Linked DNA regions of Homo sapiens. The protein of the gene in region 1 binds, or shares a complex with, the protein of each later gene. Each region holds a gene or a part of one and is shown in the gene's direction. Other genes may lie near its edges. The genes, in order: NET1 and RHOA.

Region 1 (16,236 bases):
TGTGTGCCACTATTCCTAGCTAATTTTTTTGTATTTTTGATAGAGACAGGGTTTCACCATGTTGGCCAGGCTGGTCTTGATCTCCTGACCTCGTGATCTGCCCGCCTTGGCCTACCTTAAAGTTTTTATGATCAAATATTAATATTACTACTTTAATACAGTTTTTTGGTTCACATTTGAATGATGTATTTTCCCATCGTTTTACATTCTTAGAAACTTAAAACCTTTCCATATTCTCATATTTTGGATGTGTTCTTTGTATGCATGATATAACTGAATTTTTTTTCTATTTTTGTATTTGAATTGGAGAATTCAGCTCATTACATTTAATATAATAACTAATATAGTTGGGTTTAGATATAGAGTACTATTTTATTTTGTGCTTTCTGTTTGTCTCCATTTTCTAAGTTCTCTTTTCTTCCTGATCTTCTTTTGAATTAATGACATGTTTTGTTAGCATAGTAACAATTTTATTATTCAGTAATCAAAACAAAATTTCTGTTACTCAAGAATCTTGGTTTCTACCAATTCTTCCTTACAACTTTGAGAAAATGAAGAAACCATAGTGTTCTTCAGCAATTTTCTCCTGAACTTATTATAAATTATACTTTCTCTCATTTTGATCTTCATAAAGTCAATCCTATCTGTCTCTGTCAATAACTCCCCAAATGTTTAGCATCCTGGTAGTTCCATATAATGAAAAGAAAAATTAAGCCAGTTCCATTTTATAAAATCAGAATGATATTTATTTTGTTGCTGTATCAAATTTTCTCCCACTGGTCCCAGATATTTTCAGTTTGAAACAAGATGAGGGAAAAATCAGATAATGTGAGTATCTCATTTCTAGTCCACTGATGTACTCAGTATCTTTCATTAACTTTTAAAAATTGTCAGTCTGACATGGAGCTATGATTAACTTAGATTTACGTAGGAATTAGAAAGAAACTAGAAAAATCTCTTTTGTAGTATAATTTAAGAAATGCATCTTATCTTTTAGTAATTCCTTATTTCTTTGAAAGACTAAGTCTTAAAGAAAAAAGTTTCCTCAAGTGATAATAATTGGAATTTCACGTCTGAAGAGGCCTTCTGGGGTGATAGTTTTTGTGTCAACTTGGCTAGGCTGTGGCACCCAGTTATCCAATCTAACACTAGTCTGGGTATTGCTGTGCAGGCATTGTGGAGGTGTGGTGAACATCTCCAGTAAACTTTGACTTTAAGTAAAGGACATCATCCTCAATAATGTGAGTGGGCCTCATCCAATCAGTTGAAAGACCATAAGAGTAAAATGGAGATTTCTCTGAGGAAGAAATTTCTCCTAAGGATGGCACCTTTAGTTTCAGCTTTAGCTGTTACTCAGGAGTTTCCAGCCTGCCAGTCTGCCAGCCTGCCCTACTGATTCCAGACTTTACAGCCCCACAATCACACTAACTTATTCCTTAAAATAAATCACACACACAATACTGACTCTGACATACTTGGTGGCCACCCTTAGGTTCTGAGGGTGAAAAAATGGCAGAGTGATAAAAGTGTGGTATTTATAGTTACGATGTCCTTGTTCAAAGTTCCTTTCTTGGCCAGGCACAGTGGCTCATGCCTGTAATCGCAGCACTTTGGGAGGCCAAGGTGGGCAGATCACCTGAGGTCAGGAGTTCAAGACCAGCCTGGCCAATGTGGTGAAACCCCATCTCTACTAAAAATACAAAAAATTAGCCGGGTGTGGTGGCAGGCACCTGTAATACCAGCTACTCTGGAGGCTGAAGCAGGAGAATCACTTGAACCCTGGAGGCGGAGGTTACAGTGAACCAAGGTCACGCCATTGCACTCCAGCCTGGGCAACAAGAGCAAAACTCCATCTCAAAAAAAAAAAAAAGTTCCTTTCTTAAGTATTTTTCATTGTGAGCCAGTCAATTCACTGGCCAAGTAATGAGACAAACAAAACCTTCTAAGCATGAAAATTTGTTACAAAAAAAAAAAATTATTCAACTCTGAGCAATAATTCTGATTGACATTCTGACATTTCTGAAGTTCTCTTTGGTAATTCTCTGTTGGCAGCCTCACAACCACAGCCAGATCACTGTCCTTTGCCATTCTCTCTGGCCCCTACCATTGCACTGAAACCCCTTTCTCCTTCCTCCTCTGTTCTCCTCTCCTACTACTAATATAAATCAGTCTTTTAGACCTGCAATGTCTTTAGGAAGATAGTCTAAGCGTTAAGAAAAATGAATTACAGTCTACTTTGGATTAATAGCACCTTCTCTGGCCACACATATTTCATCTCAAATTTTATTGTTCTCTAAGCTCAACAGCTAGATTTTGGAGTTTTCCATTTTCCTCATTGGAATACCTAAGAGTAAACCAATATGGTAAACAAATGATTCATAGATGATTGATTGATTGATTGACTGATTGAGGCAAAAAATGAAACAACCTCCCCCCACATCACACATACACACACAGTGATAGATTTTAAGGGATGACAAACCTGATTTCAAATATTCTGCCCTATTGTGCCTATAAGTACACTTCTGCTTGTCAGAATGACAATCAATGCAGTCCACATACTTAGCTGTTGGACTACACTCCCTTTCATTTGGCAGGAACAATTAAGTTTGACCCAATTAAAAATTACAGTCTAATAAACAGTTTTGTAAATTAATCAATAGTAGATATAGTAAATATATTTTTAAAAATTTCAGACTTTATTATAACATTCTATATATAAATTATATGTATATGCACACATACAGACATTCATTCTCCTGAATGTAATTGCTGTTAGTTCATGAGAAGCTATGAGAAGATTCAGACAAAAAAGAAAAACGTTGATGCAAAGGGCAATTCTCTAGTTATTAAGACTACTAGTTTTCTAATGGTAGGTCATTGTTTGCAAATTTGCTACATTTTTCTATGGGAGCCTACAGACCAAAGGGGAATCATTTAGCTAGTGATAGCAATGGCAAACAAAATATCACATCAAAATCATCAAATAATTTGGAAATTAATAAAGTGTTTTGATGAACACTTTGTACTCTAATATATACATATATATATATATATATATATAAAACTTGGTAAGCAGTTTTGCAAAAATAGTTTGATTTACTTAGATAATGAAAGAAAATAGGTTTTTAAATTATTGATTTACATAATAATTTACATTCATTTATTGATTGTTGAATTTATTTAATATCAACTTGCAAAATGATTGGTGTCATCACATAGGGCTGAAGGTTTTGGAAATAATCTTTGAGGAAGTTCCCCAAAAGAATATTTGTTTTGCAAATCCATGGTTGAAAAAGTTTGGGTTACACTTTGCTCTAGTCAAGTTAGTAGGAATATCTTCTCAGAGAGGGAGTTCTAGAGTCTGATTTTATATATATGAAAGCTGAAATCAAAACAATTTCCTCAAACCCTATCCCGGTGAATATTTTAAGGGAGAAGGATGATTTGTGGGGAACTGAAAGAGAGAGGATTCAGAGAACATTTGTCATGGTTTTGGGACTGTTCTATACAGTGTAAGACATAGAACATGGGGACAATGGCATTCAGACACCAGAAAGTTGATCTCTTGTAAGATCAAGAGATGTCACCAGCCTTTCCCAGGTCTTCAATGACCAACCCTCAGAGCGGTCACTTTTCTTTGCTCTTCTTCTATGGTACCCAGCCATTTTCTGATGAAAATTTGTCTTCTATTCCTTATTTCCCTAATGTCTAGCACAGATCCTGGCATATTATAGCAGGAATTTAATAAATTCTTGTGAATAATTGAACAAAATCATAAGTTCTCAAGTGAATGAAAATTGGAAACAGTTGCTCTGCATAAAACAATAGTATTCAGGTCACTGGAAAGAAGTGCCCACCCCCACCACTGGAATCCCCACATTGACATCCTGCAGTATCTATCATTTTGTGAGTAGTTATTACAAGTTACCAAAGGACTGACCACCTCTGATGACACAATCAAAACCAGTTTCAGGACCTGCAAAGCTGAGGACAGACCCTGAATTCTGAGGATCTCACCGAAGTATGTTGAAACTATTAATATGAAACGGCTGTTTCTGTGGGTAAAAAGACCAAGCGTCAGCGATTCACATGGTCCTATCTTGTGAACAAAAGTTCTCTGAAAAGGAAGTTTGGAGAAAGGAGACTTTATTCTAGTGAACAGTTTGCAAACCAGGGAGACACAGCCTTCGGAGTAAAAGAAAGGTGATTCCAGAGAATAAAGGGGAGGGTTTGGCTTCTATAGAAAAAGTTCTTGTCCAGGTTTCCAATCAGATGTGTTTATGCAAAGGAAAGATTCAGACTTGCTCAGTTCAGATTGGGTAATACAGCTGAACCCTGATTGGATAAAGCAGATGAGTTCTGATCGGTTACATCAGGTGAGCCCTGATTGGTCAATTCGGGTAAATTGTGAAAATCCCAAAGGGGTGTGAGTTTTCTGGACACAGAGTAGTTGTGACCTACTTGGGACCTGACTTGAAGAATTGCTCTTACAGGTTTATTTTTGTTCATAATCTAAACATCTGCATCCTCTGAAGCTCTGTCTTGGTGGAGACCAACTCCCCAAATATTAAGAACATTTCTGTATTCTTACACTCTAACTGCTACAAAGCAGTACTTTCTTCTTTAATTTTTGGGGAGGGATGGGGAAGGTAGAACAGAAGTGGTTCTTGACCAAGGTCAACTTATGTTCAGAGCTGGTTCCTTCCGGTGGGTTCATGGTCTCGCTGACTTCAAGAATGAAGCCATGGACCTTCATGGTGAGTGTTACAGCTCTTAAAGGTGGCACAGACCTAAAGAGTGAGCAGCAGCAAGATTTATTGTAAAGAGTGAAAGAACTAAAGCTTCCACAGTGTGGAAGGGGACCCCAGTGGGTTGCCCTGCTGGCTGGGGTGGCCAGGTTTTATTCCCTTATATGTGCCCTCCCATGTTCCATTTTTGTCCTATCAGAGTGCCCTTTTTTCAATCCTCCCTGTGATTGGCTACTTTTAGGGTCCTGCTGATTGGTGCTTTTTACAGAGCACTGATTGGTGCATTTTACAATCCTCTTGCTAGCTACAGAGCACTGATTGGTGTGTTTTACAATCCTCTTGCCAGACAGAAAAGTTCTCCAAGTCCCCACTCTACCCAGGAAGTCTAGCTGGCTTCACATCTCAATGTTACTCCCTAATTTCTTACTCTTTTTAAAACAAAAACATTTTTCCCTCATGTTATAAAGGTACTGCAAATTCAATATGTCCTTATTTTTAAAAAAATTAAATGCAAAAAATAAAAATAAAAATTTTGAATACCTAAAGTCTACCTAGAGACATTTTAATACATTGACTTTTTAATACATTTAATACATTTTAATACATTATCTTTTTTCTTTGTATAATCTCTTGTAATTCATAACTTTGAATATACTGAATATACCTCTATACTTCATGTTTTTATTTCAAATTACCAGTATACTATTACATACTTCACACTTCATTTTTGTTGGCTGAAAATATTCTTCTCAGTGGATGAGCTATAAATCATTGTTTATTTAGGTTGTTTTAAATGTTTCTATTATAAACAATGTCATTAATAGCTTCATGTTTATATAATTTTATTTTTTAGGATAAATTTCCATAAGTGGAAATATACTGGCAAAAGAGAAGTGTTTTTTTGTTTTTTTTTTTTTGGAGACGGAGTCTCGCTCTGTCACTGGGCTGGAGTGCAGTGGCACGGTCTTGGCTCAATTCAAGCTCCGACTCTCTGGTTCAACTAATTCTCCTGCCTCAGCCTCCTGAGTAGCTGGGATTACAGGCATGCGCCACTCTGCCCAGCTAAGTTTTGTATTTTAGTAGCGACAGGGTTTCACCATGTTGGCCAGGATGGTCTTGATCTCCTGATCTCGTGATCCGCCTGCCTCAGCCTCCCAAAGTGCTGGGATTACAGGCGTGAGCCACAGCGCCCGGTCAGGAGAAGCTATTTTTAAAGACTTTGACACATATAAAGCAATATTTAAAATCAAAGAAAGTGTAATTTGTTTAACAATTTTTTTTTTACTTGAAGCGGTCTTTTATTTTATATTATGTCTTTTGCTGACTTTTACAAGCAAAGGATGAAGTCACTTCATTCTGTTTTGCTAGGGAGAGACTGTGTCATGCTTATTGGAAGACATAAGGGCTCATAATTAGATTTTGCTGGTTCCCTAGAGACAGTCCCGGGAACACACTTGCATAACCTTTGGTAATTGGAAATATATCTCATATTGGCCACGTGCACAATAATTCAGTGTGAATATGGCCAATAAACATGCCTTGTTTACAGGTCATTAGTTTGGACCTCTCTTCTCCTCAAATGCTAAGAAAGATCTGGTGAATTAAAATGCTTCCAGTCCATTTGCCTTGGCCTGTAGTGAAAGTCCTAATGAACAATGAAGGAGGTACCGGGCCTTAGGGACTCAGGGATGCGCTCAGGAGTTAAGGGCAAATTTTCCTAGGTTCTTTCCTAGGCAAGTAGATCCCGGGAGCGGTGGAGGGGCGGGACTCCACGTCTCCTAGGAACCGCTGCGCGCTCACTGATTGGCTGATCGCTGCTCAGCCGCCATTTTCAAATCCCCGGATGACGGCGGTGGCGGCTGCAGTCCGCTGACAGGCGCTTTCTGCCTGGCAGAGGCTGGCGGGCATCGTGCCCGTCCCTGCCGGTCTCCCGGGCACCCGGCCACCGCCCCACCCCCTCCTCCGTGCCATGGAGCCCGAGCTGGCGGCTCAGAAGCAGCCTCGACCGCGGAGGCGAAGCCGCCGGGCCTCTGGGCTCAGCACGGAGGGAGCGACGGGGCCTTCGGCCGACACCTCCGGGTCGGAGCTGGACGGGAGGTGAGTGTGGGGGAGGGGAGGGCCGAACGGGAGGTGAGTGTAGGGGAGCGGAGGGCCGAACGGGAGGTGAGTGTTGGAGAGGCAAGGGCCGGGGGGAGGGGAGGGCTGGCCGGGAGTTGGATGTGGGGGGCGGCGAGTGGGGGTGTTGGTGAGGGCCAGGGGGAGGCGAGGGCCGCTGGGAGGTGAGTGGGGGGTGGGGGAGGTGACCGCGGGGTTGGGGGGGGGGACGGGGGCCGCTGGAAGTGAGGGTGGCACAGGCTGGAGTGACAGTGTGCCTGGCCTTGGACCGAGGTCGGTCCTGAGACCCCAAACTGCGATTTTCCCTGCCTGTGGCAAAGGGGCGGGTTTATTGAGTCTCCTCGCCTCCTGACTGTTTCTCAGGGGAGACTTAGGAAAAACCACAATGGTTTTGTTCTGCACACCCAACTGGCTGTAGGCTGGCGTTCCCAAATGCCTTTGCTCAGACCGAAACTGTCATGGTGAGCACCACGAGAATGGGCTTCCATGTCCTGAGAAAGAAAAGACTAAGGGATAAGTTGACTTCGGGATATGTTATGAGATGCCTATTAGAGAGTTCATCACAACCATTTTCGTGTTTTTTCTTTTTACTTTTTGTGGAAGTATACATTGAAATGAGAGTGTATGACTCGTGTTTGGCTCAGTGAAATTTCACAAAGCGAAGCTCAGGGGATAGCTAGTGAATTAGGAGGAAGGGAACCAAGTGAGAACAGTATCCAGGAGGCCAAATGAAGAAAGAATTTCAAGAAGAGGACGTGGCGAGCTATGTCAGATGTTATTGATAGGTCAAATAAAATGAGGATTAAGTAAAATAAGATGAGGATTAAGCTAGATGAGGAATGAAAATTAAATTTGGTAATGAGAAGAGAGTATTGATCTTAGATGGTTTCCAAGAATGGTTACAATATCGAACTTAGAGTGTTTTGCAACAGGTTGAGAAGAGAATGTGCGATTTGTTCAGAAAATAATGTGAGTGCCAACACTAGGAATATGGAAATGGAAAAATACTCTTGTTACTATTTAAGATTTATAATCTAGTGGGGAAGAAAGATAAGTAGGTTAATAATTATTATAATATGTGATAAAAGTTATTATAGTGATATACACAGAATGCCGTAGATTAAAAGGAACACTTAATCCTGACTGGAGAGAATAGGAAATGATTTCCTATTGTAATCCCTGAGTCTTTAAGGACCAGTTTAGAGAGCAGATGTAAATGGATGATTTCAGGCAGAGAAGCATGTAGAAAGGCCCTGAAGCAAATGAGTCTGATGAGTTCTGGGTATATATTCTATTTTATTACTATATTAACAGTGATATTTGTATAGAGGAGAGGAAACCAATATGGGGAGAAGGAGGAGGTAGTCATGAGAGATGATGCTAAAGAGGTAAGCGCCACATCATGAAGAGACCTTGTATGCCTTGACAGAGTTTGGGTTTTATCTTCATGGTAATGGGGAAATACTGAAAGACTTTAAATGAGCCAATGGCATGACATATTTGCATTTTAAAAGATCAGTTTGCCTTCCATGAGAAAAATAAGCAACATTTTGGAGTCATCTCACTCTTCATATTTTATGAAAACTATTCCCCAAAAATGTGCACATATACATAAACATTTCAGGAGATTTGTGGACCCAGCTGTGTATACCAAATTAAAATTTCCAAGTTTAGCTGATGGATTGGTAGGAAATCAGTCTGCAGTAGTCTAAATGAAAAAATGATTGTTCGAATCTGATAGCTGGCAATGGGATTGGTGAAGAGAAGTTTCACTGCAACAGGAAGACAAGAAAGAATAGAGAGAAATAACACAATTTTGTGGGATAGACTCTTAAGAAAGAATAAATTCCCTTGATGTGCTGTGCTGAGTTAACAAATAGAGGGAGAGGTTGAACAGACAGTAGAGGAGAAAAATGGTTGAACAAGGATCCAAGAAGGCAGAAAAGGACAGAATCCAAATTCAAGGTAGAGGATTTAGCCTAACAAGAAGCTATGGATGATATATAGTTTTGAAGAATGGGGTGTGTTGTGAGCAGGAATTTGAGGACTTTCCCACCAGGCCTCTATTTTTTGTGTGAGGTAGGAAATGATACATTGTGAGAAAAGCGTAGTAACACAGGCAGCATGAGGAGAGTGAGACACAGTTAGAAGAACCATGGAGAGAAAATGGAGAATTAAATAACATATTCCTTTTCCAGAAAAGATGTAAGATCATCTACAAGAATACGTAAAATATTACAAGATAGTATTAATTGTGAGGCAAGAAGCAACTAAGCACTGTATCAGATTCAGAAATCATAAGGAAAAAGATTTGTGTGTATGATTATGTGACTATTGAAAAACGTTCTGCAGGCAAAACTCAGTATAAACTAATTTGAAAGACAAATACGTACAGTACAATTTACCCACTTAAATTGTACTACTTAGAACATTTTCATCACCTCAAAAAGAGCATTTGTACCCTTTAGCTATTGTTCCTCTCCTACCCCTTCTGCCCTAAAACCTAATCTGTCGGTCTGTAGGAATTTCTCTGTTCTGGACATTGCATATGAATGGATTTATGTAATGTGTGTGGCCATTTTTGGTGGGCCATCCTTTGCTCTTTTTTTTTTTTCTTTTGAGACGGAGTCTCAGTCTGTCACCGGGGCTGGAGTACAGTGGCATGATCTCGGCTCACTGCAACCTCCGCCTCCCGGGTTCAAGTGATTCTCCTGCCTCAGCCTACCAAGTAGCTGGAACTACAGGCATGTGTCACCACGTGTGGCTAATTTTTTGTATTTTTAGTAAAGACAGGGTTTCACCATGTTGGCTAGGCTGGTCTTGAACTCCTGACCTTGTGATTTGCCTGCCTCGGCCTCCCAAAGTGCTGGGATTACAGGCGTGAGCCACCGCACCTGGCCCTGTTCATTTTTAAATTTCTTTTTTATTGAGTTGTTAAGAGTTCTTTATTCTGGATACAAGTCCCTTATCAGATAGATTATTTGCAAATATTTTCTCTTATTCTGTGGTTTGTCTTTTCACTTTCATGATGTGCTTCGAAGCACAAAAATGTTTTAGTTTGTAGTCCTACTTGTCTATTTTTGCTTTTGTTGCCTGTGTTTTGGTGTCACATCCAAGAAATCACTGCTAAATCCATTGTTATGAATCCTTTCCCCAGTGCTTTCTTCTGAGAATTTTATCATTTTAGCTTTTATATTTGGGTCTTTAATCCATTTTGAGTTAGTTTTTGTATATAATGTGAGATGACGGTCCAACTTAATTCTTTTTCATGTGTCTATCCAGGTACCCCAGCACCATTTTTTGAAGACTGTTCTTTCTCCCACTGAGTAGTCTTAGCACCCTTGTCAAAAATCAGTTGACCTTAAGCATGAGAGTTTATTTTTAGACTTTGACTTTTATTCTCTTGATCTATATGTAATAGCCCTATGCCATTACCATGGTGTTTTGATTACCGTTGCTTTGTATAGTAAGTTTTGAAATTGGGATATGTGAGTCCTCCTACTTTGTTCTTTTTTTCCCAAGATTGTTGTGGCTATCCTGGGTCTCCTGCAATTCTATGTGAATTTTAGAATCAGCTTAATCGATTTTTACAAAGGAGTCCACAGGGATTCTGATAGAGATTGCATTAAATCTTGTAGATCATTTTCAGGAGTATTGCCCTCTACAGAGAGTTAAGTAGTCTGATCCATGGACAAGGGATGTTTTTCCAATTATTTAGATCTTTAATTATTTTCAACAGTGTTTTGTAGTTTTCAGAGTATAGTTCTGCATGTTTTGCTAAATTTATTCCTAAGTATTTTGTTCTTTTTGATGCAGTTGTAAATGGATTCATTTCTTTTGAAATGGGAAAAGTTCCCTTTTCCCCCTCGCAGGGCGTGCACTGGAGGTGTGCTCGCTTCTTCGGTGCCCTGCTGTTCAAACCTCTAGGGGAACATATAGATAGGCAGGCTGTGGGGCTCCAACCCCATAGCCATGTCTATGGGTGAATGTTTACAGCTGAAGCCTCAGTGGGCTTGTGTTACAGGGTACTCTTAGTTTAGCCATCCGTAGGCGGCTTGTATTCATCAGCTCAGTTAGACCCCTGCCTTATTTCAAGGACAGGGGGCCTTCTGTATCCCAGGGTTCTTGCCTTGATGTACTGGAACAATCAGATGACACGTTGGCTTGGATAATGATTGCAAGCTTTTATAGAGTGGAAGTAGCTCTCAGCAGATGGGGGAGCCAGAAGGGAAATGGTTTTGCCCTGGTGTCAGGTTGCCCGATTCTCCTCCAACCTCCCTGGCCAAGCTCTGCGTCATTCTGCGAATCGATGGCCTGCCAGCTGGCCTGCCAGCGTGCTGGTGTACTCCCACGTCGATGTGTTCCTCTTGACATCCAGCCACCTGTGTGTCTGCCTGCTAGGGTCTCGGGGGGTTTTTATAGGCACAGGTGGGGGCGTGCTTTTATAGGCACAGGATGGGGGTGTGGTGAGCCAGGGTGGTCTTGGGAAATGCAACATTTGGGTAGGAAAACAGAAATGCCTATCCTCACTTAGGTCCGTGGGCCCAGGCCTGGGGATGGAGCCCTAGCAAGGGACCACGCTCTCCTCTACGCAGCACTTCCCTGCCCCGCTTTGTATCACTTTATTTTCAGTTTAATAATTTCAATTGTATAGGAATACATACAATTGATTTTTGTATATCGATCTTGGATCCTGCTACCTTGCTGAGCTCATTAGTTCTAATAGTTTTTTAGTGGTTTCTTTAGGACTTTCTGTGTACAGGGTCATGTCATCAGCAAATAAAAATAGTTTTACTTCTTTTTCCAATCTCTGGATGCCCTTTACTTTTTTCTCTTTCCTAATTGCCCTGGGTAGGGCCTCCTGTACAACGCTGAACAGAAGTGGAGAGACGGGAAATTCTTGTCTTGTTTCTGATCTTAAGGGGAAAGCATACAATCTTTCACCATTAAGTATGATGTTAGTTGTAAGCTTTGTAGATGTCCTTTATCAGGTTGAGGAAGTTCCATTCTGTTACTAGTTTTTGAGTGGTTTTTATCATGAAAGGTTTTAGGGTTTTTTTTCTTTTGTCTATTGAAATGATCATGTGGTTGTTGTTATTACTGATGTGTTACATTAATTGATTTTTTGGGATGTTAAACCAACTTTGCCTTCCTGGTATAAGTCCTGCTTGGTCATTGTGTATAGCTTTTTTAAATATATTGTTGGATCCATTTTGTTAATATTTTGTTGAATATTTTTGTATATATATTCATAAGATATTGATCTGTAGTTTTATTATCTTGTACTATGCTTGTCTGGTTTTGGTATTGGGATAATACTGGCCTCATAAAATCAGTTAAGAAGTATTCCCTACTGTTTTGTTTTTTTTGAAAGAGTTTGTGAAGAATTGGTATTCTTTCAATGTTTGGTAGAATTCAGTGTAAAGCCACCTAGGCCTAGACTTTTCTCTGTGGATAGTTTATTATTATTATTAATTCAATCTCATCTCTTGTTGTAGGTGTCTTCTGATAGTTTGTTTCTTATTAAGTCAGTTTCAGTAGGTTGTATCTCTTTAGGAATTTGTTTCATCAAAGTTATCTAATTTGTTGGTGTACCCTTCCTTGTTCATAGTATTTCTTTATAATCCTTTTCATGTAATGTCAATAGTAATGTCCCCTCTTTTATTTCTGATTCTTGTAATTTGTGTCTTCTTTCTTTTTATGATGATGGTCAATCTAGCTACAGTCTTGTCAATCTTGATCTTTCCAAAGAATGTGATTTTAGCTTCATTAATTTTCTTTGTTCTTCTATTCTTTGTTTTATTTTCACTTTAATCCTTATTGTTTCCTTCTTCCTGCTTAGTAATCTGAGTAATCTGCTCAGATTAGTCTGCATGCTTTAGGTTTAGTTGGCCCTTTTTGTTTCCAGTGTCATGATTATAGATTAAGTTACTGATTTGAGATCTTTTTCTTAATATAGGGATACAGCTATAAATTTCCCTCTGAGCATTGCTTTAGCTGCATCTCATAAATTTTGATATATTGTGTCTTCACTATCATTAATCTCAAATTCTGATTTCTTTTTGACTTCTTTGAGCCATTAGTTATTTAGGAATGAATTGTTTAATTTCCACATAATTGTGACTTTCACAAATTTTTTCTAATTTCATTACATTGCAGCTGGAAAATACACTTTGTATTATGTATTATTTCTATCCTTTTACATTTATTGAGATTGTGCTGTTTTTATATGCACATATGTTTGTAATTGTATCTTCCTGATGGATCAATCTGTTTATCACTATAAAATATCCCTCTTTGGTAACATTTTTTTCTTTGAAAGGCCATTTTGTTTGATGTTAATATAGCTACTCTAGCTTTCTTGTGGCTTGCTGTTTGCATGATACGTGTTTATCCCTTTATTTTCAAGCTGTTTATATCTGTGAAACTAAAGTGTGTCTCCTGTGGACAGCATATAGTTGGATCTTGGTTGGTTGGTTGGTTGGTTGGTTGGTTGGTTGGTTGGTTTTGATCCTGTCTGGCTGTCCATTTCTTTTGATTGGGTTGTTTACTCCAATCACATTTAACGTTATTTATTGATATAGTTGGATTTATGTCTGCCATTTTGTCGTGTTATATATGTCTTTTGTTTCTCTATTCCTCCTTTATTGCTTTCTTTTGCATTAAGTGAGAATTTTCTAATTTATAGCATTTGAATTTCTTTACTGATTTTTTTCATTGACACTGCTTTTACTAGGCTTTTTTGGGTTTTGTATGTGAACTCAGATTACCGTCTGTGGTCACTGGCTTTCAGCCAGAAATTCTTATGGTATTTCTTGTAAGGCAAGTCCGCTACCAACAAATTCTCTGTTTGTTTTTTTTCTTTGTTTTGTTGTTGTTGTTGTTGTTGTTGTTGTTTTTATGGGAATGTCTTTGTTTCTCCTTCATTCTCGAAAGATAATTTTGATAGTATAGGATTCTTTGCTGAAATTTTCTTTTTCTTTGAGCACTTTGAATGTGTTATCACACTGCTTCTGTCTTCCATTGTTTCTGTTAAGAAGTCAGAATCTTTTTGGGGTTCCTTGTAAATAACAAGTGTTTTTTTCTCTTGCTGCTTTTAAGATTTTCTTATCTTTAACTTTTGCCATTTTTACTATGATGTGTCTGTCTGTGGATATCTTTGTGTTATCTTACTTGAAGTTTATTGAGCTTTTTCTGAATGTGTAGGTGGTTGTTTTTCAATAAATTTGGAGAAGCTTCAGCCATTGTTTCTCTGAAGTTTTTTTCTGCTCTTTTCTCTTTTCCTCTCTTTCTGATATTCCCATTATGTGTATTTGAAGGGAAATATAGCAAATAAAACAAAATTTTAATGCAAATATTTAAACCAAGCAGTTCTACCCACAGAAATTTATCTTAAAGTAATGGGCAAGTATACATGGATGTATGTACAAGAAAGTATATCCTAGCACATTTGTGTAGTAGAAAGGTTAGAAAAAACAGGAGGAGGAAGCTAAATACATTATGATATTCTGTACAGTGAGATATTATAATATACAATTTTTATAACTCAGGTGGAATATATTTGGTATGTTGTATAAGATGTATTTGGGATTTTAGGTTGTTTGTTGATACATCTCCTCTATACACCTGTGCAAGTTTCTCTGGGGCAGCAGTTATGTTTTCTATGTAGATATTCCCTACAATATGACAGGCCTCTTAACGTCTTTCTCCTCACCTCCCAGTTCTGGGTAGTAGGCAAAGGTCTTTCTTTTTTATTTTATTTTTTTATTTATTTTTGAGATGGAGTCTTGCTCTGTCGCCAGGCTGGAGTGCAGTGGCGCGATCTCGGCTCACTGTAGCCTCCGACTCCCTGGTTCAAGTGATCCTCCTTCCTCAGCCTCCCGAGTAACTGGGATTACAGGCAAGCGCCACCACGCCCAGCTAATTTTTGTATTTTTAGTAGAGACGGGGTTTCACCATGTTGGCCAGGATGGTTTTGATCTCCTGACCTCGTGAACCGCCCACCTTGACCTCCCAAAGTGCTGGGATTACAAGTATGAGTCACTGTGCCCGGCCAGCAAGGGTCTTTCTAAAGAACCCTAGGTTATACTACATGATTGAGAGCTCAGAACGAGGACTGCTTTTCTGGCCTAGTTTTTTTGATACCAAGTCTGTTCTGGCCTCAGCTTTGATTTACCTAATTATTTTCTGTCTTCTCCTTTGAGAATGTATATTCTTTTAACATTCTTTTAGACTAGAACCCATAGACAAAGAGTAACGTTTAAAGATTTTAGGCATTAAAAGCAGTCAGACTTCCTAGGTTCAAATTCTGGCTCTTAAGGACCTTGGGCAAGTTACTTAGTCTCTAAATCTCACTTCATAGTACCTATGTCTAAGGTCCTGAAAATTGGACACAAGTAATGTTTAAATAATTTTATTTCTGTCTTTCGGGGCCTTAGGGAAAGCCATAGAACTTTACATATCACCCATATGGCAGAAATATAAATACATACTGATCCTTTTAAGGATTTTATATTTTCCTTTTTTGCAGATTTGAAATAATGCTGTCCATTGGTAGAAAAATAATAGTATGACCTATGATCTACCAACAGTGATAAGGCTTACTCTTTGAATTTTGTTTTTCCAGTAAAATTAATTGATGGATTTGTACAGTGGATATCCAGTTAAAGGTATAGCCTTAAATCAATTCTTGACAACCCAGGATCTTTATTATTAGTAGTAGTAGTTGCCAAAAATAAAAGGCATGCTCACAGAAGCTTGTAAGGCCATGTGGTCCCAAATAAGTTGACTATGTTTTTAAATAGTTTATTGAGATATGATTTGTATATCATAACATTCACCCTTTGTAGGTGAACAATTCAGTAATTATCAGTAAATTTATAGAGTTGTGCAGTCATTACCACAATCCATTGTTAGAACATTTCATCACCCCAAATATCCCTGCTCCCACCCCAGCCCTAGGCAGCCACTGATCTGCTTTCTAGCTCTATAAATTTCTATTTTCAGGACATACAAGTGGAATCATACAATGTGTAGTCTTTCTGCTTCTGCCTTCTTTCACTTACATCAGTATTTCATTTTATTGCCAAACCATATTCCATTATATGAATATACTACATTTTGTCAACTCCATTTACCAGCTGTTGTACATTTGATTTGTTTCCAGTTTGGTGCTTTTATGGATAATGCTGCTATGAACATTTGCATGTAAGTCTTAGTGTAGGCTGGGCGCGGTGGCTCACGCCTATAATCCCAGCACTTTGGGAGGCCGAGGCGGGTGGATCACCTGAGGTCAGGAGTTCGAGACCAGCCTGGTCAACATGGCCTGTCTCTACTAAAAATATAAAATTTAGCTGGGCATGGTGGCGTG
Region 2 (16,611 bases), on another chromosome or scaffold:
CCATCCCTGCTCCTCCAGGGAGCTGCATCACCTCTCCCCTCCCTGCAAGTTATTGCATCTGGGTCCCAAGGGGCAACAGCTTCCAGGATGTTCCCTCTCTCACTGCCCCTGTGCATGCACACCCTTGTTCTGTCTGAATAACCACAACAACCGATGCACTTCCGTGTTTAATAAGCCACATCCTCAGTTGAGCCTGGGGTGAAATGTGAGATCCTGACTCTGTGCAGTAGTATTAGTGGGTGGGCCAGGGGCTGTGAATAACATCATCCTCAGTACAGCTGCAATTCCAGGGCCCCTCTACCACAAAGATGGCTTAAGCAAAGGCAGCCAGATGGAAGTATGATATCCAACAGGAAGGAAGTAGGCAGGGGTCACTAAAGTGGCTGGTGGCCCAGCAGATGGAAACAGAAGTATGGCCCCGAGGGAAGGAGGCAGGTCCAGGGCTACAGTGCTTTCAGGTACTGGTGTTTCTATAGGGGCATTTGCCACCCACATCTTTGGAAACTCCCCTGGCCTATTGTGACATGGCAGGGCTGCCTGGTTCTTGAAGGTAGAGAAAATGCTAGTGGGGAGGAGCTGAGCCTGTGACGTGCATTTGTACCAGGTCCAGATGGGAAATGATGAGGCTGCAGGCTATGATGGGGCCACTGTGCACTAAATGCTTGGTACCATCCTATGAGGGGACAAGGTGCAGACCCACATTCCCATAGGCACTTAAGCAGTGGTGGATAGGAGGCTACCCCAGGGGTTCAGCTGTCCTTCAGGTAATCAGCTTACCCCCAAGAAGGACTGAGAGGAATATGAGTAGGACAGTTGGCAGATGACAATTTCCTTTGCCTGGCTCACGGGAGAAGTCTGGTTGGGCCAGGTATGTGGGTGTTTGGTGCCTCCATCTGGATAGTGCCAGCAGGTACACCACCCTGCCTTATACCTGAATGGCCAGCTAAATAACCATAGAGCTTAAGGTCTGGCTCAGGTCAGGATTCCCTGGCTCCTTGCCAACAAAGCAAAACCAGAGATTCAGAAAACTCAGGGCCTAGGAGAAAACAGACCTGCCTTACAAACCCCAGAGCTGGTCAACCTCAGGCTTCCTCTCAGGAAAAAAATTTTTTTTTTGAGATGGGTCTTGCTCTGTTGCCCAGGCTGGAGTACAACGGCGCAATCTTGGCTCACTGCAACCTCTGCCTCCCAGGTTCAAGCAAATCTCCTGCTTCAGCCTCCTGAGTAGCTGGGATTACTGGTGTGTGCCACCACACCCGGCTAATTTTTGTATTTTTAGTAGAGATGGGGTTTTCACCATGTTGGTCAGGCTGGTCTCGAACTCCTGACCTCGTGATCTGCCTGCCTCAGCCTCCCAAAGTGTTGGGATTACAGGCGTGAGCCACCATGCCTGGCCAACTCAGGAAAAATTTTTATGGGGTCACATCTTGGGGATGGAAGAGGGACAGGAAAAGAAACCTAAGACAAAAGAACTGATGGTCTTCCCAACCCAGAGGCTTCCTGAGTTATCACCCCTGAGAGAGGAAGAACACAATCTCTCTCCTTAAGGCACCCAGATAAGAGTACAGGCAAACTCTTCACTTGCCCAGTGCCTGGGTGAGGGAGCAGGCTTAAGAGGCAGAAGAGGCCCAGCCCTGTAGGCACTGGGTACTCCCTGCTACCAACCCTGAACCCCCGGCAGTTGTCCCTGAGGTCTGGGGAGTAGCAGAACCCAGTGTAGAAGCCAGCAGACCCAGTGATGCCCTTGGAGACCCTCTGCTGCCTTCCCTTATTCTCTGTGGGTTTTGAGAGGTTCGTTTGCTGCCATTTCCCTGAAAGTGATGGAGAGAGAGAAGAGAGAGTGGTTATTCCATGGGCAGAACAGTTGCTGAAATTGGCTCTCCCAAGCTCCTTCTTGGGGGCTGAGCTAGGCTCAGTAAGGTCACATAACAATCTAGACCTCTCTGCTGGTCTCCCACAGCCCACCCTGGGCCCAGCACCTTCTCCCTGCAGACTCATTCTTCTTCCTGGTTCTCCATGTTAGTACGGCATTGCCATCCTTCTCTAGTTTTTTTATTCTTTTTATTTATTACTATTGTTATTACTTTTCTTTTTTTGAGACGGAGTTTCACTCTTGTTGCCCAGGTTGGGGTGCAATGGCAAGATCTCAGCTCACTGCAGCCTCCACCTCCCGGGTTCAAGCAATTTTCCTGCCTCAGCCTCCCAAGTAGCTGGGATTACAGGCGCCCGCCACCACACCCAGCTAGTTTTTGTATTTTTAGTGAAGACGGGGTTTCGCCATGTTGGCCAGGCTGGTCTCAAACTCCTGGCCTCAGGTGATCTACCCTCCTCAGTCTCCCAAAGTGCTAGGAACAGGCGTGAGCCACCATGCCCGGCCTGTTATTTTTTTTGAGACAGAGTCTCACTCTGATGCCCAGTCTGGAGTGCAGTGGCGTGATCTGGGCTCACTGCAACCTCTGCCTCCTGGGTTCAAGTGATTCTCATGCCTCAGCCTCCCGAGTAGCTGGGATTACAGGCGTATGCCACCATGCCCAGCTAATTTTTTCTATTTTTAGTAAAGACGGGGTTTCCCTATGTTGGCCAGGCTAGTCTCAAACTCCTGACCTCAAGTGATCCGCCCATCTCAGCCTCCCAAAGTGCTGGGATTACAGGCATGAGCCATGGGGCCTGGCCTCTTCTCTAAGACAGAAACCTGGGCAGTGGCAGCCTTTCTAACCTCTAGCCCTAACTCTTGGACCCCTTTATCTACTTGCCATGAAGTAGGCATTTATAAAGGCAAATTAGATCAGACCACAGCCTTGCTGAGTTAGTCTTTCAATGGCTCCCAGGGTCCAACAAGCTCTCACGTTCAAGCTCCAGCATCACAGTCTTACCTATTCTAATATGTCACCCGTATTCTTCCCTCTTAGCCTTGCTCAATCCATTCCCTTTGCTTGGTACACTTTGTCACCCTGTGGCATTTGATCTCGGCTTAGGTGTCTTTCTTGGGAGAAGCCTTCCCTGACCACCCTTGCCCCATGCACTGCCGCCCTCCCCTAATAAATCCCTGGCTCCCCATGAGCAGGGCCCGGGTTGTCTTTGTTCTCTGGGCCTCGTGTGGCCCCTATCACGTGATAGGGGCCCAGAGATTATCTGAATGAATGCCCTGATTAGTGAGCGCATGTTTTGCAGAAGAGGAGGCTGACCCTGATGAGGTCAATGTGCTCAGGACAGAGATTACTGCCTTCCCAACTGAGGGGATTGTGCAGAGTGGAATCCAACAAACCTGTCATTTCATCTCTCTGAAATTATGACAATACCACCACCTATCCTACAGGCTGCTGAACAGCATGATGATGGACTGTCCAGACCTTGGTGTCACCCTAACTTGAAGCCTGAGCTCTACGTGCAGACTTGAAGCTTGCTGCAAAGGCCATTAAGCTGGTGGGCTTAAAGCCTGAGAACTCCCCTCTCTGTCACCAGCACAGGAGTGTCCTTGGAATGCCAAGCATGGGGTTGCGGTATGGACAGATTTACTCACCACGAAGGGAAATGCGTGGAGCCATCAGGCGTGGATCCATTCTGACCACCCAGACCTGGAGGCAGAAACACATCCAGAGCTGCAGAAGGCTGGGGTGGGAATCTGAGCAGGCATCAGCCCAGGTCAGGTTAGAGACCACTGGTATTGTTTGGTGAAGTCTGGTGAGGGTCCTAAGGGACTAATGGTATTGCCAGGTGAGAGTTCTGAGGAACAGATACAATGTGATGGGTGGACTGGTGGGGATTCTGGCGTAAAATGGTATGGTGGCATGAGTCAGGGCACAACGTTAAGTTCTCCCATCCAAGTACCTGGCTTAGCTTCCGAGGTCAGATGCGTTCAGGGTAGTAAGGCCGTGAACCAATGTTAAGTTCTGATGAGCCTCTTGCAGGATAGTGGGGAACCCAATGGTACAGTCGGGAGAGGGTGGGGGCGGGGGCGGCCAGCCCACGGAGGTTCGTAGGAAGCCTCACCTGGACGGTGATACAACCCGGTCACTGTATTCCCGTAGAACCCCCACGCCAGCTGGATGCCCAGGAGACTTAACACCAACCACAGCAGCAGCAGCTTGAAGAGGGTCACGCGCATGTCCTGCGCCTCCCACTCCCGCAAGAACTCGCTGCCCAGCGCGCCCAGCACCGTGGCCGGCAGAGCCTGCAAGGCCTGCCCAGACCAGGACTCCGCCATGACTGGCCCTCGCCCCACCCGGGGTACTGTCACCGTAGTCCCCACCACGCACGCGTGTGGTCTTCCGGGACCAGGCCCGTTAGTGCGCACGCGTAAACCCAGCCAGGGTGGGGCCTACTTCGCGTGCGTGAAGAGTTGGCAGTTCGGGGAGGAGTATTAAAACCGCGCACGCGCACCTAACCCCACCCTGCTTGCTTAAGGGATGAGTGACTCCGGGAGTACAAAATAGCAACCAGGTCTTTTATAGCCCCGGAGTTCCCGTGATGCCCCACGCGGCTGCAATGATTGGTTAAGGGTTTTGCTTTTAGGGCGTGGACGGGCTCCTGAGCAATAGTGGATGAGCTGTGAGTGCGCGCGCGTGCGCGGGGCCGCGACCTGTGCCGGCTCGAGCCCGCTGGGCACTCGGAGGCGCGCACGTCGTTCCCCGCCCTCCCGCCGCCGCCCGCCCTCGCTCTCTCGCGCTACCCTCCCGCCGCCCGCGGTCCTCCGTCGGTTCTCTCGTTAGTCCACGGTCTGGTCTTCAGCTACCCGCCTTCGTCTCCGAGTTTGCGACTCGCGGACCGGCGTCCCCGGCGCGAAGAGGCTGGACTCGGATTCGTTGCCTGAGGTGAGCGGAAGGGTTCCCTCCAGGCGCCGCGGGGCCCCAGGCCCGCCAGCCCGGTACTCTTCCGGCCGGCAGGCCGCCGCACCGCCGCGGCCGCGCCCCACCGGCTGCTCGTGGCCGAGCCGCCCCTGGCCCCTGACCCTTGACCTGACTCCCAGCCCGGGCCCCGCGCCCCAAGCGGCGACCCCGCCCGCGCAGTCCCCGGAAGCGCGCCCGGTAGTCTCCTGTGCCCCTTCCCCCGCCCGGCCGGGCCTGGTGGAGCCCAGGCTGCCCGCCTGCCCGCCCTCGGTCCCCGGAGCTTCCTCTCCCAGCGGCGCCGGGCAGGGCGGGGGCTTTGGGCCGGGCCCCGCGACCGCGCAGTGTAGCCGGCCGCTGAAAGCGCGCGTGGCTGTCGGAGTTGAAATGGGAAAGAAACTCTTTACAACTCCATTTTGCTTTTTACGTTTAACGAGAAACGACAATCACTGTTTCATATTGATTAAAGTCCAGTTACACTTTGGGTAGGTTTTCTTTTAATGCAGACTTGTTGGAGACTGTGTAAGTAAGTAAAAGATTGTATTGAACGCTTAGGGGTATGATCTACGGCCATACCACCTGGAACGCGCCCGAACTCGTCTGAAAGCTTTGGGGTCTGTTTTGAGTGGAAAAGGGGTATTTTCCATTTGGAAAAAAAAAACAACACACAAAACTGTAAATGATTTAAGCGATGTTGCATGAAAATAGATGCAATGTTGCTTAGTCGAAGTCGCTGTATTGATTAGGAATGATCTAAATATCTGTACCTTAGTTACTGATTGGATCTACAGTTACGGGTCGTCTTCATTGAATAGCGCTATTCGCATCCAAGTTGATTTGTTCACAAACCTTGTTTAGTAGTTTACGGTGGAAAATTGGAATCCTTTTTACCTCAAAGTTGGTTCCACTTGTGTTTTTTAATAGTTCTGATTTTAAATTTTTACCTCTGTTGTTGACTTGTTTGGTTCTGTCTTGAAGAAAGTCTTAAACGTTTCTTGCAGGTGTGTAAGTAGATATTTCACTCTGCCTTTCTGAAGGAGAAAAATTGAAAAACCAAAAAACTTCCATAATTTAAAATGTTGTATGTGGAGAGAATTTTTCAACCACTTAGTATCACCCAGATGTGTAATGTGTACCATGCGGATGATTGTCACCTTAGATGTGGCTAGATTGGCGGAGATACTGTTTTGAGCATTTGGCACAAGTGACATTGGACTGAAAAACTAGTTTTTAATTGTAAAGAATGACTTATTGAAGGATCTCTGGATAACTTGTCTTAATTGGTTCCATCTACTTTTGTGGAGCACTGATGGCTCTTGGGGACATTAAATATATAAGGTGCACCTTGGTTTGAGTTAAAGTCTAGTGCTAGATTTATCCTCTCTGTTCTCATAAAAATCTGTGTTGGAGGGAAGAAGAGAGTAGGAATACTGTGTAGTTCTTGAGTTTTAGATCTAAGAGGAATCTTTCAGGACTGGTTGTCCAACCCCATTTGCAGATGAGCAAACTGAGTCCCAGAGACTTAAGTAAATTTCCCAAGGTTACCTATCTAGTCAGGAGCAGACCAGAACTGTCTGCTCTGTTAAGGTATTCTCCATTTACTCCCAAGCAGTTGGCCTCCAGAGTCAGCTAAAATTCAGGACTTCTAGCTTATTCCATTGTTTCTTCTTTTAAACCTTGTTGATGGTGAATAGTTTGGGAGAAACTGTTCATTTGCCAAAAAATTTCGGTTCATTAGCTTACACAGCACTCTCCCCTTGTTAACTGGATGGTCCTGCCTTCAATTGAGGGAGATAGATGAATGTACGAGGGTCCCTGGTTGGCCTAATCATGGCTTTGTTTGGATTTTTTTTTAAGGGACCAACTTCTAGAGCAAGGCCTACACTTTACTGCTTCAAAACCAAGATATTTAGGTCAGGCTAAGATATTTTTAGTTAACTGTGGGCACTTTTGACTGTTGATTTGGGGTACTGCGTGTATCAAGTAAACAATTCCCTGTGCACATGCATGTGGTGGTGGTGGAGTATTTTCGTAGTCCTGATTTCTTTCCATTTGTCAGTTAACTGCTTTTTAAAAGTTTATTCTGGTCATATGGGGGTGTAAGTTATTAGGAGAGTAAAAACAGGTAGCTCTTCAGGTGTTTCTTGTCCATGGGGTGGAGTCCATGCAGTGACTGGAGAAGGTGCTAGTTTGCGTCTTTTTAATTGTCTTAGAGAGCTGAGAGATATATGTTAACTCTGAGAAGAAAGACTGATCAGCTTCTAAGAGAGCTAATTTGAAGCTGCTGGCCTTCTGTAGACAGCACCTTGGGTTTAATTGCATTGTGGTTACTAGTGATTATGATAAATAGTACATAGTCACTGGATTTTAAAATTGGCCATATAGTTGTAGTTTTATATTTATTTTTATTTTTGAAATGGAGTCTCACTCTGTTGCCCAGGCTGGAGTGCAGTGGCGCGATCTCAGCTCACTGCACCGTCTGCCTCCTGGGTTCAAGTGATTCTCCTGCCTCGGCCCCTGGAGTAGCTGGGACTACAGGCACCCACCACCATTCCTGGCTAACTTTTGTATTTTTAGTAGAGATGGGGTTTCACCGTGTTGGCCAGGCTGGTCTTGAACTCCTGACCTCAGGTGATCCGCCTGCCTTGGCCTCCCAAAGTGCTGGGATTACAAGGGTGAGCCACCACGCCCACCCATATTTGTAGTTTTAAAAGGATCCTGGCAGGGCGCGGTGGTTCATGCCTGTAATCCCAGCACTTTGGGAGGCCGAGGCGGGCGGATCACGAGGTCTGGAGACCATCCTGGCTAACACGGTGAAACCCCGTCTCTACTAAAAATACAAAAAAAATTAGCTGGGTGTGGTGGCGGGCGCCTGTAGTCCCAGCTGCTCTGGAGGCTGAGGCAGGGGAATGGCGTGAACCCGAGAGGCGGAGCTTGCCGTGAGCTGAGATCGCGCCACTGTGCTCCAGCCAGGGCAACAGAGCGAGACTCCGTCTCAAAAAAAAAAAAAAAGGATCTTAAGTATTTTGTCTGACTCTGCCATTTAGTTTATTCCTTTGTTTACCTGCCCAATGGAACTGTTTGCTTGTAACTACACATTAATATAACTAAATTTTGAACTTAATGTTACATGCCTTGCTATACATGGGGCTCTTTGGGGACATGCTCATTTGTGGGATTAAAATTTCCAAGACGGTTTGAAGTTTGTAATTACTATAAAATCCCTCATCTTTAATCTGTGGAGCTGTAGTATTAAGTGAAGGCCTTGGTATGTTCATAATTACGATAGTCATGTGACTGAAAATCAGGCACTGAAGCTGCTCGTTCTGGGTGTTGGTCTCAGTTTATTGATGCTTCATCCAAATACATTTTTATAGCTAATAATAAAGAAAAACATCAAATACTCTTGCTAAATTGCAATCAGTATGCAGTTTATGCCAAACTTAGCTTGATTTTATTTTTTGAAGAGGATGAGTATGTATATTTAAGCATATGTGTGTGTGTGTATATGTATATATACTTGTGTATACGTATATACGTGTATACGTATATATATGTGTACATATACGTGTATACGTATATATATGTGTACATATACGTGTGTGTATGTGTGTGTGTATATATATATATTTTTTTTTTTTTCTCTTTTGAGACTGAGTCTCACTCTGTCGTCCGGGCCAGAGTGCAGTAGCGCCATCTCGGCTCACTGCAACCGCCGCCTCCTAGTTCAAGTGATTCTTGTGCCTCGGCCTCTGGAGTAGTTGGGAGTACCAGCATGCGCCACTGTGCTCAGCTAATTTTTGTATTTTTAGTAGAGACGGGGTTTCACCATGTTGGTCAGGCTGTTCTCGAACTCCTGGCCTTGTGATCTGCCCCCCTTGGCCTCTGAAAGTGTTGAGATTGCAGGTGAGAGCCACTATGTCTGGCCATATTTAAGCATATTTATGATAGTATCTTAAATTTAAGTGAAGGGAAAGAGGAAAACATACACAGCCAATGAAGTAAGTTTGAAGTGGAGTGAAAGGAAAAGTTGGAGGTAAAAAGAGGTTAGAGAGGTGGGCAGGGGCCAAATCATATAGGGCCTTTAGGACATGGGAAATTCTTTGGATTTGTTCTGAGATTAGAAGTCATTTAGATATTCTTTAGAAAGGGAATGACATGATCTGATATTAAAAAAAAAACTAGAATCACTGTGAGTAGGAGTAGATCTAATTCCATTCTGACTAAATAGTAAACTAATATGATAATTTGGACAAATATAAAAAGGAATTCCTGGCTGGGAGCAGTGGCTGATGCCTGTAATCCCAGCACTTTGGAAGTGCTGGGCAGGTGGATCACTTGAGGTCAGGAGTTTGAGACCAGCCTGGCCACATGGTGAAACCCTGTCTCTACTAAAAATACAAAACATTAGCTGGGCGTGGCAGCAGGCGCCTATAATCCCGGCTATTCAGGAGGCTGAGATAGGAGAATCACTTTAACCTGGGAGGCGGAGGTTGCTGTGAGCAGAGATCGAGCCATTGCACTCCAGCCTGGGAGACGGTGCAAGACTCAAAAAAAAAAAAAAAAAAAAAAAAACGGAAAGGATTTCATAATATTAATTTCCTTGACTTAGTGACTTCTGCCTATTTTATTTGAAGTCATTGGTTCTTCTCTTCTCTTCTCTTGAGACAGGGTCTCACTGTCACCCAGGCTGGAGTGCAGTGAGTGATCTTTGTTCACTTCAACCTTTGTTTCCCAGGTTCAAGCGATTCTCGTGCCTCAGTCTCTAGAGTAGCTGGGACTACAGGTGTGTGTGTGTGACCATGCCCGACTAATTTTTGTATTTTTAGTAAAGACGGGATCTCACCATGTTGGCCAGGATGGCCTTGATCTCTTGACCTCGTGACCCCGTGACCCACCCACCTTGGCCTCCCAAGGTGTTGGGATTACAAGCATGAGCCACTAAGGATTTGTTTTTAAAATTTTTTTGCTTTATTTTTTTCTTCTCTTTTTTTGTACTAGAGATGGTGTCTTGCTATGTTGCCCAGACAGATCTTGTACTCCTGGGCTCAAGTTGTCCTCCTGCCTCAGCCTCCCAAAGTGCTGGGATTAAAGATGTGAGTCAAGCGATTCTCGTGCCTCAACCTACCCACTAGCTCGATTACAGGTGCCATCCACCACCTGCCCACCACCCTTGGCTAATTTTTGTATTTTGTATTTTAGTAGAGACAAGAATTTTACCATGTCGGCCAGGCTGGTCTCAAATTCCTGACCTCAGGCAATCCACCCGCCTCAGCTTCCTGCTGGGATTACGGGCGTGAGCTACCCTGGCCAAGATTTTTAATTTCTGAAGCTTATAGCTGCTCTAAAGCACAAGGATTCAGTCCCATGATTTAAAAAAGTTGCTTGTTTTGACTTCAAGTATATGGTTGAGCATTCTAACTTTTGTTATGTATACATTTTTATTTTACTGTATTCTTCTAGCCATTGTATCCTAGTCTGTATGTTGCAGATGAGTTGTGATTCTCTGGTGTCTCTTCCATGGACCTAGAGATCATATGCTCTACTACTGGGATTTTTTTTTGTAACTTTGTTTGGGATATAGGCTTTGAGAGGTTAAGGAAGTAAATTTAAGATGGATATTTAATGTTGTAACACTTTGTTAATGCTTTTTTCTACAAGATAATTTTATTATGTGATATGGCAGCTTTGTTGGAAATACCTGTTTTTTTGTGTGTGTGGAAAATTTCTTTTCTGGATGAAATCTCTTGTTTAACTTTTCCAGTTATTCATAATGAAGCTCTGTTTATCTTTTGAAGATCTTAAGTTCAGAAACAGAAGGCAGGCTGCGTATGGTGGCTCATGCCAGTTATCCCAGCACTTTGGGAGGCCGAGGTGGGTGGGTCACCTGAGGTCAGGAGTTCGAAACCAGTCTGACCAACATGGTGAAACCCCATCTCTACTAAAAATACAAAAATCAGCCGAGTGTATTAGTGAGTGCCTGTAATCCCAGCTACTCGGAAGGCTGAAGCAGGAGAATCCCTCGAACTTGAGAGGCGCAGGTTGCAGTGAGCCAAGATTGCTGCACTCCAGCCCGGGCAACAGAGCGAAACTCCGTCTCAAACATACACACAAAAAAAAGAAGGAAAGAAAAGGCAGTAGAGTATCTTATTTAAGAGCATGGATTCTGGAGAGAAACTGACAGTTAAATACTAGCTCTGACACTTGATGGCTTGAGACCCTTGGCAGTAGTATGTCTCCTTTGTAATTCAGTTTTTTTCTTCTGTAGAAAGGGAATGGTAAGGAAGCGCCATGAGATTTCAGTGAGAGAGAAGCACTTACCTCAAGTGCCAGACATGTAGCCCTTCAACTAACTTATTTTATTTATTTATTTTTTGAGATGGAGTTTTGCTCTTGTTGCCCAGGCTGGAGTGCAATGGCGTGATCCCAGCTCACTGCAACCTCCACCTCCTGGATTCAAGTGATTCTCCTGCCTCAGCCTCCCCATTAGTTGGGGTTTACAGGCATGTCACCATGCCCAGCTAATTTTTTTTTTTTTTTTTTTTTTTTTGAGACACAGTCTCGCTCTGTCACCCAGGCTGGAGTGCAGTGGCGCGATCTCGGCTCACTGCAACCTCCGCCCTCCGAGTTCAAGCAGTTCTCCTTCCTCAGCCTCCTGAGTAGCTGAGACTACAGGTGCCCGCCACCACGCCCGGCTAGGTGTTTTTTTTTTTTGTATTTTTAGTAGAGACAGGGTTTTACCGTGTTAGCCAGGATGGTCCCGATCTCCTGACCTCAGGTGATCTGCCTGCCTCCGCCTCCCAAAGTGTTGGGATTATAGGTGTGAGCCACCGCGCCTGGCCTACTTTTTTTATTATTTTTTTTTTTGGAGACAAGAGTCTCGCTCTGTCGCCCAGGCTGGAGTGCAGTGGCGTGATCTCGGCTCACTGCAAACTCTGCCTCCCGGGTTCATGCGGTTCTCCTGCCTTAGCCTCCCAGGTAAACTGGGACTACAGGTGCATGCTGCCACGCCTGGCTAATTTTTTTTTTTTTTTGTATTTTAGTAGAGACGGGGTTTAACCATGTTGCCCAGGCTGGTCTCCATCTCCTGAGCTCAGGCAATCTGCCTGCCTTGGCCTCCCAAAGTGCTAGGATTACAGCCGTGAGCCACCGTGCCTGGCCTTCTGGCCTTTTTTTTTTTTTTTTTTTTTTTTTTTGAGACGGAGTCTTGCTCTGTTGTCTAAGCTGGAGTGTAGTGGCACAATCTCGGCTCACTGCAATCTCTGCCTACCAGGGTGCAAGCGATTCTCCTGCCTCAGCCTCCCAAGTAGCTGGGACTACAGGTGCGTGCCACCATGCCCGGCTAATTTTGTGTGTGTGTGTGTGTGTGTGTGTTTTACTAGAGACGGGGTTTTACTTTGTTGGCCAGGCTGGTCTTGAACTCCTGACCTTGTGATCCACCTGCCTTGGCTTCCCAAAGTACTGGGATTACGGGTGTGAGCCACTGCGCCTGGCTTTTTTTTGGAGAGATAAGGTCTTGTTTTGTCATCTAGGCTGGAGTGCAGTGGCACAGTCATAGCTCATGGTGGCCTCCAACTTTTGGTGTCAAGGTATCCTTACGCCTCGTCCTCCCTAGTAGCTGGGACTACAGGTGTATGTGCCACTGCGCCCAGCTAATATTTTTACATTTTGTAGAGATGGAGTCTTGCTGTCTTGCCCAGGTTGGGTCTCAGACTCCTGGGCTCAAACAGTCCTCCCACCTCAGACTCCCAAAGTGCTGCAAGTACGGGCATGAGCCACTGAGTCCAGCTATCTTCAACTTTCACTATTCAGGTTACAGTTTGTAGTACCTTTTTTCGGGGGTGGTGGGAGGGTAGTGGGAGTAGCACCCTAAGATTTCTTGGAATAAAACAGGGCTTACTACTTGGTTCCTGGTACTTAAGAACAGTGGTTCCTAGACTCCACTGTTCCCAAACTTGGAATCCAGTTCCCCAAATTGGAATCACCTGAGGTTTAATTACCTTCATGGAGGTTTAATTTGCATACAATAAAATGCACATACTTTAAATGATAGTTTGATAATTTTTTTGTTCTTATTTTTTTTAGACATAGGGCCTTGTTCTGTCACCCAGCTGAAGTGCAGTGTCGGAATCATGGCTTACTACATCCTCGACCTCCTAGGCCCAAGAATTCTCTGCTTTAGCCTCCCGAGTAGCTGGGACTGCAGGTGTGCACCACCACGCCTGGCTACATTTTTATTTTGTAATTTTTTTTTTTGTAGAGAGAGGGGTCTCACTATGTGCTCAGACTGGTCTTGAACTCCTGGCCTTAAGTGATTCTCTCGTCTCAACCTCACAAAGCCCTGGGATTATAGGCATGAGCCACCACAAACCGCCAGTTTGATAAATTTTGATGAATGTGTATACCCAAGTAATTGCCACTCAGTCGAGTTAAAGAGCATTTCCTCAAGGCTTTAAATTTTTATTTTTATTTTTGAGACGGAGTCTTATTCTGTCATCTAGGAGTGCAGTGCCGCAATCTTGGCTCACTGCAGCCTCTGCCTCCCGGGTTCAAGTGATTCCCCTGCCTCAGCCTCCTGAGTAGCTGGGACTACAGGTGCGTGCCACCACACCCAGCTAACTTTTTGTATTTTTAGTAGAGATGGGGTTTCACTCTGTTAGCCAGGATGGTCTCGATCTGATCTTGTGATCCGCCTGCCTCTGCTTCCCAAAGTGTTGGGATTACAGGCGTGAGCCACCGCGCTCGGCGGGTTTCTTTTTTTTTTTTTTTATGAGATGGAATCTCGCTCTGTTGCCCAGGCTGCAGTGCAGTGGCACGATCTCAACTCACTGCAACCTCCGCCTCTCGGGTTCAAGCGATTCTTCTGCTTCAGCCTCCCGAGTAGCTGGAACTACAGGCACCCGCCACCACGCCCGGCTAATTTTTTGTGTTTTTAGTGGATACGGGGTTTCGCCATGTTGGCCAGGCTGGTCTCAAAGGCCTGACCTTGTGATCCTCCTGCCTCGGTCTCCCAAAGTGCTGGAATTACAGGTGTGAGCCACTGCTCCTGGCCTAAAGTTTTTTAGACTAGTTTTTTTGTTCATTCGTTTTATTTGCTTGGCTTCCTAGAATATGACAAGTTTTGGTTTGTTTTTGAGACAGAGTCTTGATCTGTTTCCCAGGCTGGAGTGCAGTGGTGCTATCGTGGCTCACTGCAGCCTCTAACTCTTGTGCCCAAGTAATACTCCTGCCTCAGCCTCATGAGCATCTGGGACTACAGGCAAGCACCACCATACCTAGTTAATTAATTTAATTTTTATAGAGATGACGTTTTGCCATGTTGTCCAGGCTGGTCTCTAACTCCTGAGCTCTGGCCTCGCAAAGTGGTGGGATTATAGGTGTGAACCACTGCACCCGGCCTAGTTTTTTATTTTAAGAAATATATATACTTGGTAAAAGTAAACTCCTGCAATAAGGTTTACAATAAGCATATATAAATTCTTAGCCAGCTCACTGGGAGGTACCTAATGGTTCATTTTTCTTTGTCAGTTTTACTAGATACGCATTGTCTTAGAGGCAATGTAAGTTTGGAATTAGGCCAAACAAAGTCAAATCCTGATTCTGTGCATCCATTGAAGGTTAACCTTATAATATTTACATTTTGAGATAAATGATTTCATGCTCTTATTTAGGAAACTTGACGGTATGTTACCTCAGGGATTGTTCCTTGCCTGTCTTTCCCCAAAGAACTTGAGTTTGAAGTGATTTTCACTTGGCAGTAAATTGAAGGTTTTCTTCATTGCTTACCACCATGTGCCTTATTCCTGCTGCTCTTGATCTCCAAGTGCCCTTACTGCTACAGAAAGGAAAGCTCTTGAACTAAGAGCTTGGCAGCCACTTGATCAGGATGGCCAAATAATGGCAGTACAGGTTGAGCATCTGAAATGCTTCAAGATGGGCGCTGGCATGACATTCAAAGGAAATGCCTAGTGGTGCCTTTCAGACTTTCAATTTTTGGATTTGGGATACTGAACCAGTAAGTATAATGCAGATATTCCAAAATCTGAAGAAATTCTGAAATCTGAAACACTTCTGGGCCCAAGCATTTTGGATAAGCAGTACTCAACCTATACCAGGCTCAAGTTCATTATGGACAGATGGATGGATGGTAGTTTGGCCCTTTCATCAGGAATTTCCCATGCAGTCAGTAAACAAAATAAACAGCTCTATGTTTTCAACTTCATTTCCCCAATTTTTTTTTTTTTTTTTTGAGACAGAGTTTCATTCTTGTCGCCCAGGCTGGAGTGCAGTGGCCCGATCTCCACTCACTGCAACCTTTGCCTCCCAGAGGTTTCGCCATGTTGCCCAGGCTGGTGTCAAACTCTTGGGCTCAAGTGATCCATCCGCCATGGCCTCCCAAAGTGCTGGGATTATAGGCATAAGCTACCTTGCCTGTCCGTTTTCATATTTTTTTGAGAGATGAGGTCTCACTGTATTGCCCAGACTGGTCTCCACCTCTTGGCTTCAAGCAGTCCTCCTGCCTCCCAAAGTGCTGGGATTGCAGTTGTGAGCCACCACACCTGGTCAGGAGTTTTACATACTATGCGTTGTTACTTGTAGGTCTTGTTTGGAAAGAAGTAACTTCCTAAGGTCAATTCAGAAAAGAAGGGTAGTAACTTAGAGGAAGTAAATTTGAAGGCCCTAGTGTCTAATATTAGTAATTTGGGCTTTTGAAAGTTTCCTTTCTAAAAGGTAGGAAATTAACTCTTTTTTTTTTTTTTTTTTTTGAGACGGAGTCTCTGTCGCCCAGGCTGGAGTGCAGTGGTGCAATCTCAGCTCACTGCAAGTTCTGCCTCCCGGGTTCACGCCATTCTCCTGCCTCAGCCTCCCGAATAGCTGGGACTACAGGCGCCCGCCACTATGCCCGGCTAATTTTTTTGTATTTTTAGTAGAGACGGGATTTCACCGTGTTAGCCAGGATGGTCTTGATCTCCTGACCTCGTGATCCGCCCGCCTCGGCCTCCCAAAGTGCTGGAATTACAGGCGTGAGCCACCGTGCCCGGCTGGAAATTAACCCTTTTATATACCATCCCCCCACCTCACCTTTTTGGCTACAATCTTGCTCTGTCACCCAGGCTGGAGTGCAGTGGCATGATCATAGCTCACTGCAGCCTTGAACTCCTGGGCTCAAGGGATCCAGCTACCTCAGCCTCCTGAGTAGCTAGGATTACAGACGCATGGCACCAAGTCCTGATACAGTCTTCTCTGTACCAGAACAAAGTATTCAGTGATTCAAGCTCACATAGGCATGAAACAGCACTGAAAGACGAAGTGCTGTAGGAGTTCAGGGATAAAGAAGAATTTAGAGTAGCCAGGAAGCCACTGAGGCCTCTGGTGGTGAGGGTGTAACTCTTGGCCTTTAAAATGAGGTTTAGGGGAAATGTTATGAGTAGTGGGAATCAACCCTTGGCCTGAACACAGATAATCTTGTTTTATCTCCTTATAGAAACAGGAGGTGGTGGGGGGTGGCCAGTTTTGGTTAGACTAGGGAAGATGTTGGGGGAGAGGGGGGCAGTATGCTTCTGTAGTTTCGTTTTTTTTGTTTTTTTTTTTTTTTGAGATGGAGTCTCGCTCTGTCACCCAGGCTGGAGTGCAGTGGCGCGGTCTCGGCTCACTGCAAGCTCCGCCTCCCGGGTTCAAGCGATTCTCCTGCCTCAGCCTCCCGAGTAGCTGGGATTACAAGCACGTGCCACCATGCCCAGCTAATTTTTTTGTATTTTTAGTAGAGACGGGTTTCACCTTGTTGGTC

The links.
Region 2: the proteins of NET1 (region 1) and RHOA are in contact, whole or in part, in a crystal structure (PDB 4XH9), measured with the Homo sapiens proteins. Residues at the interface, in NP_001040625.1 of Homo sapiens: Glu177, Ala178, Glu181, Gln270, Leu271, Lys274, Lys281, Gln291, Leu294, Glu295, Arg300, Lys301, Leu302, Asp303, Trp305, Ser306, Asp309, Arg312, Ser313, Arg314, Val316, Lys317, Leu320, Leu321, Glu324, Gln347, Leu350, Ser351, Ile353, Asn354; in NP_001300870.1 of Homo sapiens: Arg5, Lys7, Tyr34, Pro36, Thr37, Val38, Phe39, Glu40, Asn41, Tyr42, Val43, Asp45, Glu54, Trp58, Ala61, Gly62, Gln63, Tyr66, Asp67, Arg68, Leu69, Arg70, Leu72, Ser73, Pro75, Asp76, Pro96, Thr100, Pro101, Glu102.

What each region holds. Positions count from the first base shown.
Region 1 is NC_000010.11:5,405,973-5,422,208, forward strand, and holds the start of NET1 (neuroepithelial cell-transforming gene 1 protein), read left to right. Parts: upstream 1-6,584; 5' UTR 6,585-6,720; coding exon 6,721-6,848; intron 6,849-16,236. UniProt on the Homo sapiens protein: Acts as a guanine nucleotide exchange factor (GEF) for RhoA GTPase. May be involved in activation of the SAPK/JNK pathway Stimulates genotoxic stress-induced RHOB activity in breast cancer cells leading to their cell death.
Region 2 is NC_000003.12:49,400,020-49,416,630, reverse strand, and holds the start of RHOA (transforming protein RhoA isoform 1 precursor), read left to right. Parts: upstream 1-4,654; 5' UTR 4,655-4,811; intron 4,812-9,824; exon of another isoform or gene 9,825-9,919; intron 9,920-16,611. Other genes in the region: TCTA (T-cell leukemia translocation-altered gene protein), read right to left, coding at 1,769-1,811, 3,521-3,575, 3,991-4,204. UniProt on the Homo sapiens protein: Small GTPase which cycles between an active GTP-bound and an inactive GDP-bound state.